Linked DNA regions of Homo sapiens: region 2 is linked to region 1. The links come from fine-mapping of genetic effects on gene expression. A gene starts in region 1. The other region holds a variant in brackets. All regions are shown on one strand. Distances are from middle to middle. Region 1 holds the start of TCEAL9 (transcription elongation factor A like 9). Region 2 overlaps LL0XNC01-250H12.3 (a long non-coding RNA gene).

Region 1 (4,391 bases):
ATTCTCAAGTATATCCTATGATGTTCAGGATATATTCATCTGCATTTCTAATGATATAAAAATACAGTAAGACCCTGAAACAACTTGAGTTTGGATATAACATGATTGGTGATAGCAGGTGGGGAGAGAGTAAAATGGATGGATGATATTTAAGTCCAAGTGCTCAGTGAAGAATTGTTTGTGGCAACAAATCACAGCTGAGTCCTTGATGAATTTGGGTTGTGTAGCCAGCTAGCCAAATAGACTCACATCAGTCATTCCATCCATCCATCTCTCAGTAACATAACCTGGAATTTTATAGAATGAATTTCTGGACTTCACTTATCATGTTATCATGTAATTTAATTGTATACTCATATTTTAAATACACAAATATGTATACTGTTACAAAAATGTAATACCACATATAAAATTAACTTTCAATTTGCCTTTTTTTGTTTAACAATATACATTGAACAATTTTTTTCATGTGAGTAAATGTAACTCCACATCATTTTTTCATCACTGTATAATGTGGCTCTATATGAATGATCAAACTTTTCTTAAACCAATTTCCTTTTAGAAACATATAAGTTTTTGGCTCTTTAAAAAAAACACTATTGCCACAACTACTACAATGACCATATTTGGCATAGGAGTATTAATGTATGATAAATCTCTAGAAGAGGAATTGATGTGTCCAAAAGCACATATCTTCTAAAGTTTGATATTGCCAAAATGACTTCCAAAAATGTTGTACTACTTAATAGTCTCACAGTACATGTGAATATTTGTTTTACCATATGCTCATCAACTCTGAATATAATCAATATTTGTCTTTTCTAATTGTACAGATGAAAAATTAACTCTTATTTTTATTTTCAATAGATCTCAATTCTATGAGCATATGCTATTATTCCCTTCTTTCAGATGAGGAAACTCAGGTTCACAATGTGTACCTGACGATTAATTGATGATTCTTCAGGCAGCACAGCTTCCTGGTAACACCACCATGAGGACTCTGGAATGAAACATTACTCTTTTTTAAAAAATTCTGTATCATTTTCCTCACAAAACTTCTAATATCACAACAGCTTTCACTTTAAAAGCACTTACTATATGCCACATGTACAATAAGCACTGTACATGTATTAACTCATGTCATTAAAGTAATTTTTTCTTTGTCTTTTCTGACTATAAAAAGATAAAAGTTGCCCAGTGCAGTGGCTCAGGCCTGTAATTCCAGCCCTTTGGGAGGTTGAGGCAGGAGGATCACTTGAGCCCAGGAGTTCGAGACCAGCTTGGGGAACATAGACCCTGTCTCTACAAAAAAATTAAAAGACTAGCTGGACATGGTGGCACACACCTGTAGTCCCAGATACTTGGGAGTCTGAGGCAAGAGGATCACTCGTTTCGAGGAGTTTGAGGCTGCAGTGAGCTGTGATCGCACCACTGCAACCCAGCCTGGGCAACAGAGTGAGACCCTGTCTCAAAAAAAAAAAAGAGAAAGAAAGACAGAAAAAAGAAGAGAGAGAGAGAGAGAGAGAGAGATTAAAGTTACCTTTTTAAAAAGGATATAGAAGTACGAAAAATAAAAAGTAAAAATTGCATTCAGAAATCTCACTCTTGTTCCAGGGTCTTTTTTTGTTGTTGTTTCACAACTGCTGCCAAGGCCACCCTGCTCTACAACAGCTAAGAACCAGATTGCAGAGGAAATGGAGGCTAGAGGAGGGACGACTGATGGAGGAGTTATCCTGGGAGTGGAAGAATGGAAGAGACAATTCTCGAAAGAAGTAGAAAAGTTCAGTAGCTCCAGAAAAAGAGGTAGCCCCTCCCTAGTAATCAGAGTCAAGCAAATAACATTTTTCCCGCTGGGATAGGAAACAACAGAAAAGACTGACAGGGCCAAATGTATAAGTGGGGGGCGGGGAGGGAGAGAGGGTGGGCCCACTTCTGCCGCGCTTTTGGTGGGAGTGGAAATTAGGGACCCGAGCTCACTGGTGACGTAGATCTCATGTGACCAGGAGTCGACGTGTGCAGAAGTCCTGGTAATCTGGTCCTTGTTCCCGTCTGGATACCAGCTTCCTTCAGCAGCGCAGGCGGTGGTCCCTGAGGCCCGTGGAAGGAGTCAAACTTGCGGGAATTTTGCAGGTTGGTGTCACTGTAGGTGTTGACTGGGGATTTCTAGTGTGGGGGGGTTTAAGGCAGAGACTTGTGGGAGTGCCGGTCAGGTCCGTCCCTCCACCCTCCACCTCCAGGTCTACGGGAACTGATGACCCTTGGGAAAGGGACTAGGGGTCCTAGGAGAAGAACAGGGAGACCTGTGGTAGTTTAAAAATAATCATCCTCTGCTATCTAAGACTGCTTTCCGGACCCCCACCCTCCTCCCGAACCCCGCCTCAGTCTTAAAGATAGTTTGGAAATAATCTGCTTTCTCACTCTTTGTCTGATGGGAAAAACGAACTGACTTGCATGCACTGTGGAGAGGGGGTGAACTAGGGGAAACAAAAGGTGGGAAACTTTCCATATCCGAAACCCTAAAGGAGGAAAGCTACGTGTGTCAGTCTCTGGCGCTGGTCGGCCCACCAAGCGCTCGCCCCACCCCCACCGTCCCCTCCCGTTTCCAGTTTATCTGCAGGGCTGTTGTTTCCAGCAAGACCCAAAGCTAGAAAAGGAGGAGGAAGAAACTGACCCGATCAGTGCCAGGTAGGTGAGAGGAATATTATAAAGTCTCCTGGGGTGGAGACAAAGGTTGTAAGCGCCACCGTTCCTGCCGGCTCCCTTCCACCCCACCCCTTTCCCCTCTTCTTTTCTCTCCCCCTTCTCCTTTCCCCTCTTCCTCTGCCTGCCAGCCACCTTTCTCTTTTCTGGCCTGGTCCCTGTGTTAGGCCCTATGGGGGAAAAAGGTCTGGGGAGGGCTGGACGGCGGAAAGGAGGGCCTTGGAAAAGGTTAGAGGGAAGGACAAGAGAGAAGTGAGGAGGTGGAAAGTGGAGGTAAAAGGAGTGGGGATAGTGAAGCTCTGATTGCTGACTGGGCTTCTTAGGTGGAAGATATTTTATAACAGCTCTGAATAAAAAAAATTAAATGCTAAGGCCTCTGTCCACAGCACCTGTCCACTCACCAAGTCTTTAACTTACTGTCTTCTTTTTGCTTTCTAGAAGTCATTGTATTCAAAGAAGAATAAGCAAGAAAGAAAAGAAGGAAGGAAGAGAGGTAGACAGATACAAGATGAAATCCTGTCAAAAAATGGAAGGAAAACCAGAAAATGAGAGTGAACCAAAGCATGAGGAAGAGCCAAAGCCTGAGGAAAAGCCAGAAGAGGAGGAGAAGCTAGAGGAGGAGGCCAAAGCAAAAGGAACTTTTAGAGAAAGGCTGATTCAATCTCTCCAGGAGTTTAAAGAAGATATACACAACAGGCATTTAAGCAATGAAGATATGTTTAGAGAAGTGGATGAAATAGATGAGATAAGGAGAGTCAGAAACAAACTTATAGTGATGCGTTGGAAGGTTAATCGAAACCATCCTTACCCCTATTTAATGTAGTTTACCTTGATTTTTATCTGATATTAACAATACCATATAGCTTGCTTTTTATTAGCATTTCCTGATATTCCTTTGTCCATATTTCTACTTATAACCTGTTGCTATTAATGGTTTTAGATGTATCTCTTGTTATCTGCATCTCATTGTTTATTGTATTTTGAACCAATCTACAAGTCTCTGTCTTTTAATAAAAGAACTTTACACATTTGTAAAAAAGAGGTTCTTGGTAAGATATAAAATGGAAAAAGGCTAAGTAATATGTGAATATCATATTTTTGAAAGGTAAAAAGTACATTTGTATATTACATATATGGACATAACTTGTGAAGGATGAAAGAAAGTACAGCCTCTCGGTGGTGGGATTATGAATGATTTTTCTCCTTTTGCTTGTTTGTATTTTCTATATTCCTAAAATTAACACACATTATTATTGCTAGAATAATAAAAGTTTTATAAAAAAGAAGCAACAAGCAGCACGTATTAGTTTATTTCTAAAAGTATTGGGGCATTTAATATTTGTTGACAGAATTTTAGAAGAAATGTGAACTTGAAAGTAACTCCAGACCACTTAGCTAGAATAATAAATTTTACATATTTTCTCATCTTTAAAATAAAGAAAATAATCTCACAAGGATCTGGTGAGGGCCAAATAGAGTAATGACTGTGAGCTATGTTTGACAGAGTTTTGTTCCCATCCCAACTCCGTAAGAGATTAATTTCAGCGATTTGGAAGGGTGGAGAAAGTAGTTCTTATCTGTGATTAAGAACAAACCCAAGGCCGGGCGCGGTGGGTCACACCTCTAATCCCAACATTGGGAGGCCAAGGCGGGCAGATGACGAGGTCAGGAGATCAAGACCATCCTGGCTA
Region 2 (4,391 bases), 100 kb after region 1:
TTTGGGGTGGAGAGTTCTGTAGATGTCTATTAGGTCCGCCTGGTGCAGAGCTGAGTTCAATTCCTGGATATCCTTGTTAACTTTCTGTCTCGTTGATCTGTCTAATGTTGACAGTGAGGTGTTAAAGTCTCCCATTATTATTGTGTGGGAGTCTAAGTCTCTTTGTAGGTCACTAAGGACTTGCTTTATGAATCTGGGTGCTCCTGTATTGGGTGCATATATATTTAGGATAGTTAGTTCTTCTCGTTGAATTGATCCCTTTACCATTATGTAATGGCCTTCTTTGTCTCTTTTGATCTTTGTTGGTTTAAAGTATGTTTTATCAGAGACTAGGATTGCAACCCCTGCTTTTTTTTGTTTTCGTTTGCTTGGTACATCTTCCTCCATCCGTTTATTTTGAGCCTATGTGTGTCTCTGCACGTGAGATGGGTTTCCTGAGTACAGCACACTGTGGGTCTTGACTCTTTATCCAATTTGCCAGTCTGTGCCTTTTAATTGGAGCATTTAGCCCATTTACATTTAAGGTTAGTATTGTTATGTGTGAATTTGATCCTGTCATTATGATGTTAGGTGGTTATTTTGCTCATTAGTTGATGCAGTTTCTTCCTAGCCTCAGTGGTCTTTACAATTTGGTATGTTTTTGCAGTGGCTGGTACCAGTTGTTCCTTTCCATGTTTAGTGCTTCCTTCAGGAGCTCTTTTAGGGCAGGCCTGGTGGTGACAAAATCTCTCAGCATTTGCTTGTCTGTAAAGTATTTTATTTCTCCTTCACTTATGAAGCTTAGTTTGGCTGGATATGAAATTCTGGCTTGAAAATTCTTTTCTTTGAGAATGTTGAATATTGGGCCCCACTCTCTTCTGGCTTGTAGAGTTTCTCCCGAGAGAGCAGCTGTTAGTCCGATGGGCTTTCCTTTGTGGGTAACCCGACCTTTCTCTCTGGTTGCCCTTAACATTTTTTCCTTCATTTCAACTTTGATGAATCTGACAATTATGTGTCTTGGAATTGCTCTTCTCGAGGAGTATCTTTGTGGTGTTCTCTGTATTTCCTGAATTTGAATGTTGGCCTGCCTTGCTAGATTGGGGAAGTTCTCCTGGATAATATCCTGCAGAGTGTTTTCCAACTTGGTTCCATTCTCCCCGTCACTTTCAGGTACATCAATTAGATGTAGATTTGGTATTTTCACATAGTCCCATATTTCTTGGAGGCTTTGTTCGTTTCTTTTTATTCTTTTTTCTCTAAACTTCTCTTCATGCTTCATTTCATTCATTTCGTCTTCCATCGCTGATACCCTTTCTTCCAGTTGATCGCATCCGTTACTGAGGCTTGTGCATTTGTCACGTAGTTCTCGTGCCTGGTTTTCAGCTCCATCAGGTCCTTTAAGGACTTCTCTGCATTGGTTATTCTAGTTAGCCATTCATCTAATCTTTTTTCAAGGTTTTTAACTTCTTTGCCATGGGTTCAAACTTCCTCCTTTAGCTTGGAGTAGTTTGATCTTCTGAAGACTTCCTCTCTCAACTCGTCAAAGTCATTCTCCATCCAGCTTTGTTCTGTTGCTGGTGAGGAGCTGTGTTCCTTTGGAGGAGGAGAGGCACTCTGATTTTTAGAGTTTCCGGTTTTTCTGCTCTGTATTTTCCCCATTTTTGTGGTTTTATCTACCTTTGGTCTTTGATGATGGTGATGTACAGATGGGTTTTTGGTGTGGATGTCCTTTCTGTTTGTTAGTTTTCCTTCTAACAGTCAGGACCCTCAGCTGCAGGTGTGTTGGAGTTTACTGGAGGTCCACTCCAGACCCTGTTTGCCTGGGTATCAGCAGCGGAGGCTGCAGAACAGTGGATATTGGTGAACAGCAAATGTTGCTGTCTGATCGTTCCTCTGGAAGTTTTGTCTCAGAGGAGTACCCGGCCGTGTGAGGTGTCAGTCTGCCCCTACTGGGGGCTGCCTCCCAGTTAGGCTACTCGGGAGTCAGGGACCCACTTGAGGAGGCAGTCTGTCCATTCTCAGATCTCAAGCTGCGTGCTGGGAGAACCACTACTCTCTTCAAAGCTGTCAGACAGGGACATTTAAGTCTGCAGAGGTTATTGCTGTCTTTTGTTTGTCTGCCCTGCCCCCAGAGGTGGAGCCTACAGAAGCAGGCAGGCCTGCTTGAGCTGTGGTGGGCTCCACCCAGTTCGAGCTTCCTGGCTGCTTTGTTTACCTACTCAAGCCTGAGCAATGGCGGGCGCCCCTCCCCCAGCCTCACTGCCACCTTGCAGTTTGATCTCAGACTGCTGTGCTAGCAATGAGGGAGGCTCCGTGGGCATAGGACCCT[T/C]CGAGCTAGGTGCGGGATATAATCTCCTGGTGTGCCGTTTGTTAAGCCCATTGGAAGAGCGCAGTATTAGGGTGGGAGTGACCCAATTTTCCAGGTGCCTTCTGTCACCCCTTTCTTTGACTAGGAAAGGGAATTCCCTGACCCCTTGAGCTTCCTGGGTGAGGCAATGCTTTGCTCTGCTTCAGCTCACGCACGGTGCACTGCACCCACTGTCTGGCACTCCCTAGTGAGATGAACCTGGTACCTCAGTTGGAAATGCAGAAATCACCCATCTGCTGCGTCGCTCACGCTGGGAGCTGTAGACTGGAACTGTTCCTATTCGGCCATCTTGGCTAAGACTTAAGTCTACATTTCTATTATCATTTCTTATTATGTGCAATCTTTTTTTTTTTTTTGAGATGGAGTCTTGCTTTGGTGCCCAGGCTGGAGTGCAATGATGCAATCTCGGCTCACTGCAACCTCTGCCTCCTGGGTTCAAGTGATTCTCCTGCCTCAGCCTTCCAAGTAGCTGGGACTATTATAGGCACATGCCACCATGCCTGGCTAATTTTTTTGTATTTTTAGTAGAGACAGGGTTTCACCATGTTAGCCAGGACGGTCTCAGTCTCCTGACCTTGTGATCTGCCCACCTTGGCCTCCCAAAGGGCTGGGATTACAGGCGTGAGCCACTGTGCCCAGCCTGTCATGTGCAATCTTGAGTATCACTGCTGTGTGGTGGTGGGGACAGTGAGATGAAGCTGAGGGAGAGGAAAAACCTCATTGCTTAGCTTCCAGTTAACTGAATGGGGTATAGGCAAAACATCATCACACGTACAACCTCCTTACCTGTCCTCTTTCTTTCCTCACTATTCCATGTGCTTTCTTATCTCCCTTCTAGTGTAACATCAGAGAAGGGGTGTACTCTGTGCCCTAGAACTAGGAGCTAACAGAGAAAAACCAAATGTGATGTGGAGTCTGCTAGACAGGCTACTGGAGCAAGAGTGAAGCGATGAAAGTCTCATCATTGGGACATATTAGGTGAGTCACTTCCCTTACACCAGCCTCATCTATTCAACAGGATAATAATTCCCAATCTTCCTGACCACTCAAGAATACTCTGGAGATTAACAATGAACTCATATGGGAAAGCAAACTGTGATCTTAGGTGGGAGGGAAGGACCAGTCACTTTTGAGTAATTACCTTAACAGAGACAATCCAGATGTCCTAGAGTTCTCCATGGTGGGCATTAAATTAATGGCACAGTAATGTGAGGTGTTTTCATCAGAATTTTGCCAAGTATGGTTCGTGGACTACTTCATCAAAATCATCATGGATTGCCTGTTAAAATAGTAGATATTTGGGTCTACCATAAGTCAGCTGAATGAAAAACAGGGAGATGTGGTGGCAGGTATCTATATTTTGAGAAATTTTTCCAATTGGTTGTGGTACTCATCCATGTTTGAAAAGCACTGCTGTGGATTTGCAACAAGGTCTATGAAAAATTTGAATCCTTTCATGTCTAATTTCATCATTGGTTGCTCCTACTACTTTGCTTTTAATATCTGTGTCATTTCTGTTTTGTGAAATAGGTACCAGTTCCTTTAATTCAGTAATTTTCATTCAGTGATTTATGTGTGGAGCATTGATCTAAGCACCGGGGAAACAGCACAGAGAACAAGACAAACATGGTCCCCGGACATATCATTTCTAGTTTGAGAAAACTGGTAATAAGTAGGTAAACAGATCAATGAGCAGGGTAATTTCATATGGGGATTTGTGTTTTAACACATATAGAGTATTAAATGACCAAGATAAAGATAATTACAGATGGGGTTGTAAGTGAAGCTCCTTTTCAGGAAGTGACATTTGAGCTGAGTCCTGGATAACAAAAAGAAGCTAGGCACAGACTGACTTTTTGCCAGTGTGTATACAATGTGCATGGGCACCGTGTGTTCCAAGAGCAGGGAAAAGCTCAAGTGCCTAGAGCCTGGCAGACAATGCACAGACTGGTGAGATGAGGTTGAAGGGGCAGATAGGAGCAATATTGTTTAAGCCATTGTAAGGAGTTTGGATTGTATTGTGAGTGTGGAGGGTTAGAGAATG

Evidence for each region. PIP is the estimated chance that this variant, and not a neighbour inherited with it, causes the effect. A credible set is the group of variants that fine-mapping cannot tell apart.
Region 2: its variant is the best candidate, but not a certain one, in a credible set for the expression of TCEAL9 in whole blood (TOPMed, PIP 0.56).

Annotation. Positions count from the first base shown.
Region 1 is chrX:103,354,477-103,358,867 of GRCh38, forward strand. TCEAL9 (transcription elongation factor A like 9) reads left to right here and starts at 2,030. Exons shown (of 3, transcript NM_016303.3): 1 at 2,030-2,130; 2 at 2,607-2,685; 3 at 3,139-3,986. The coding sequence starts at 3,209. The coding sequence ends at 3,523. It overlaps LOC124905204 (a long non-coding RNA gene), which reads right to left and starts at 2,088. Exons shown (of 2, transcript XR_007068284.1): 1 at 1,978-2,088; 2 at 1-1,000. RefSeq lists an enhancer at 1,483-2,682.
Region 2 is chrX:103,458,030-103,462,420 of GRCh38, forward strand. LL0XNC01-250H12.3 (a long non-coding RNA gene) reads left to right here. Exons shown (of 6, transcript NR_188440.1): 4 at 3,186-3,325. Among named protein-coding and RNA genes, the nearest start is that of LL0XNC01-250H12.3, 55 kb to the left of the region's middle. RefSeq lists an enhancer at 2,148-2,647. The variant T/C (reference allele first, on the strand shown) is at 2,309.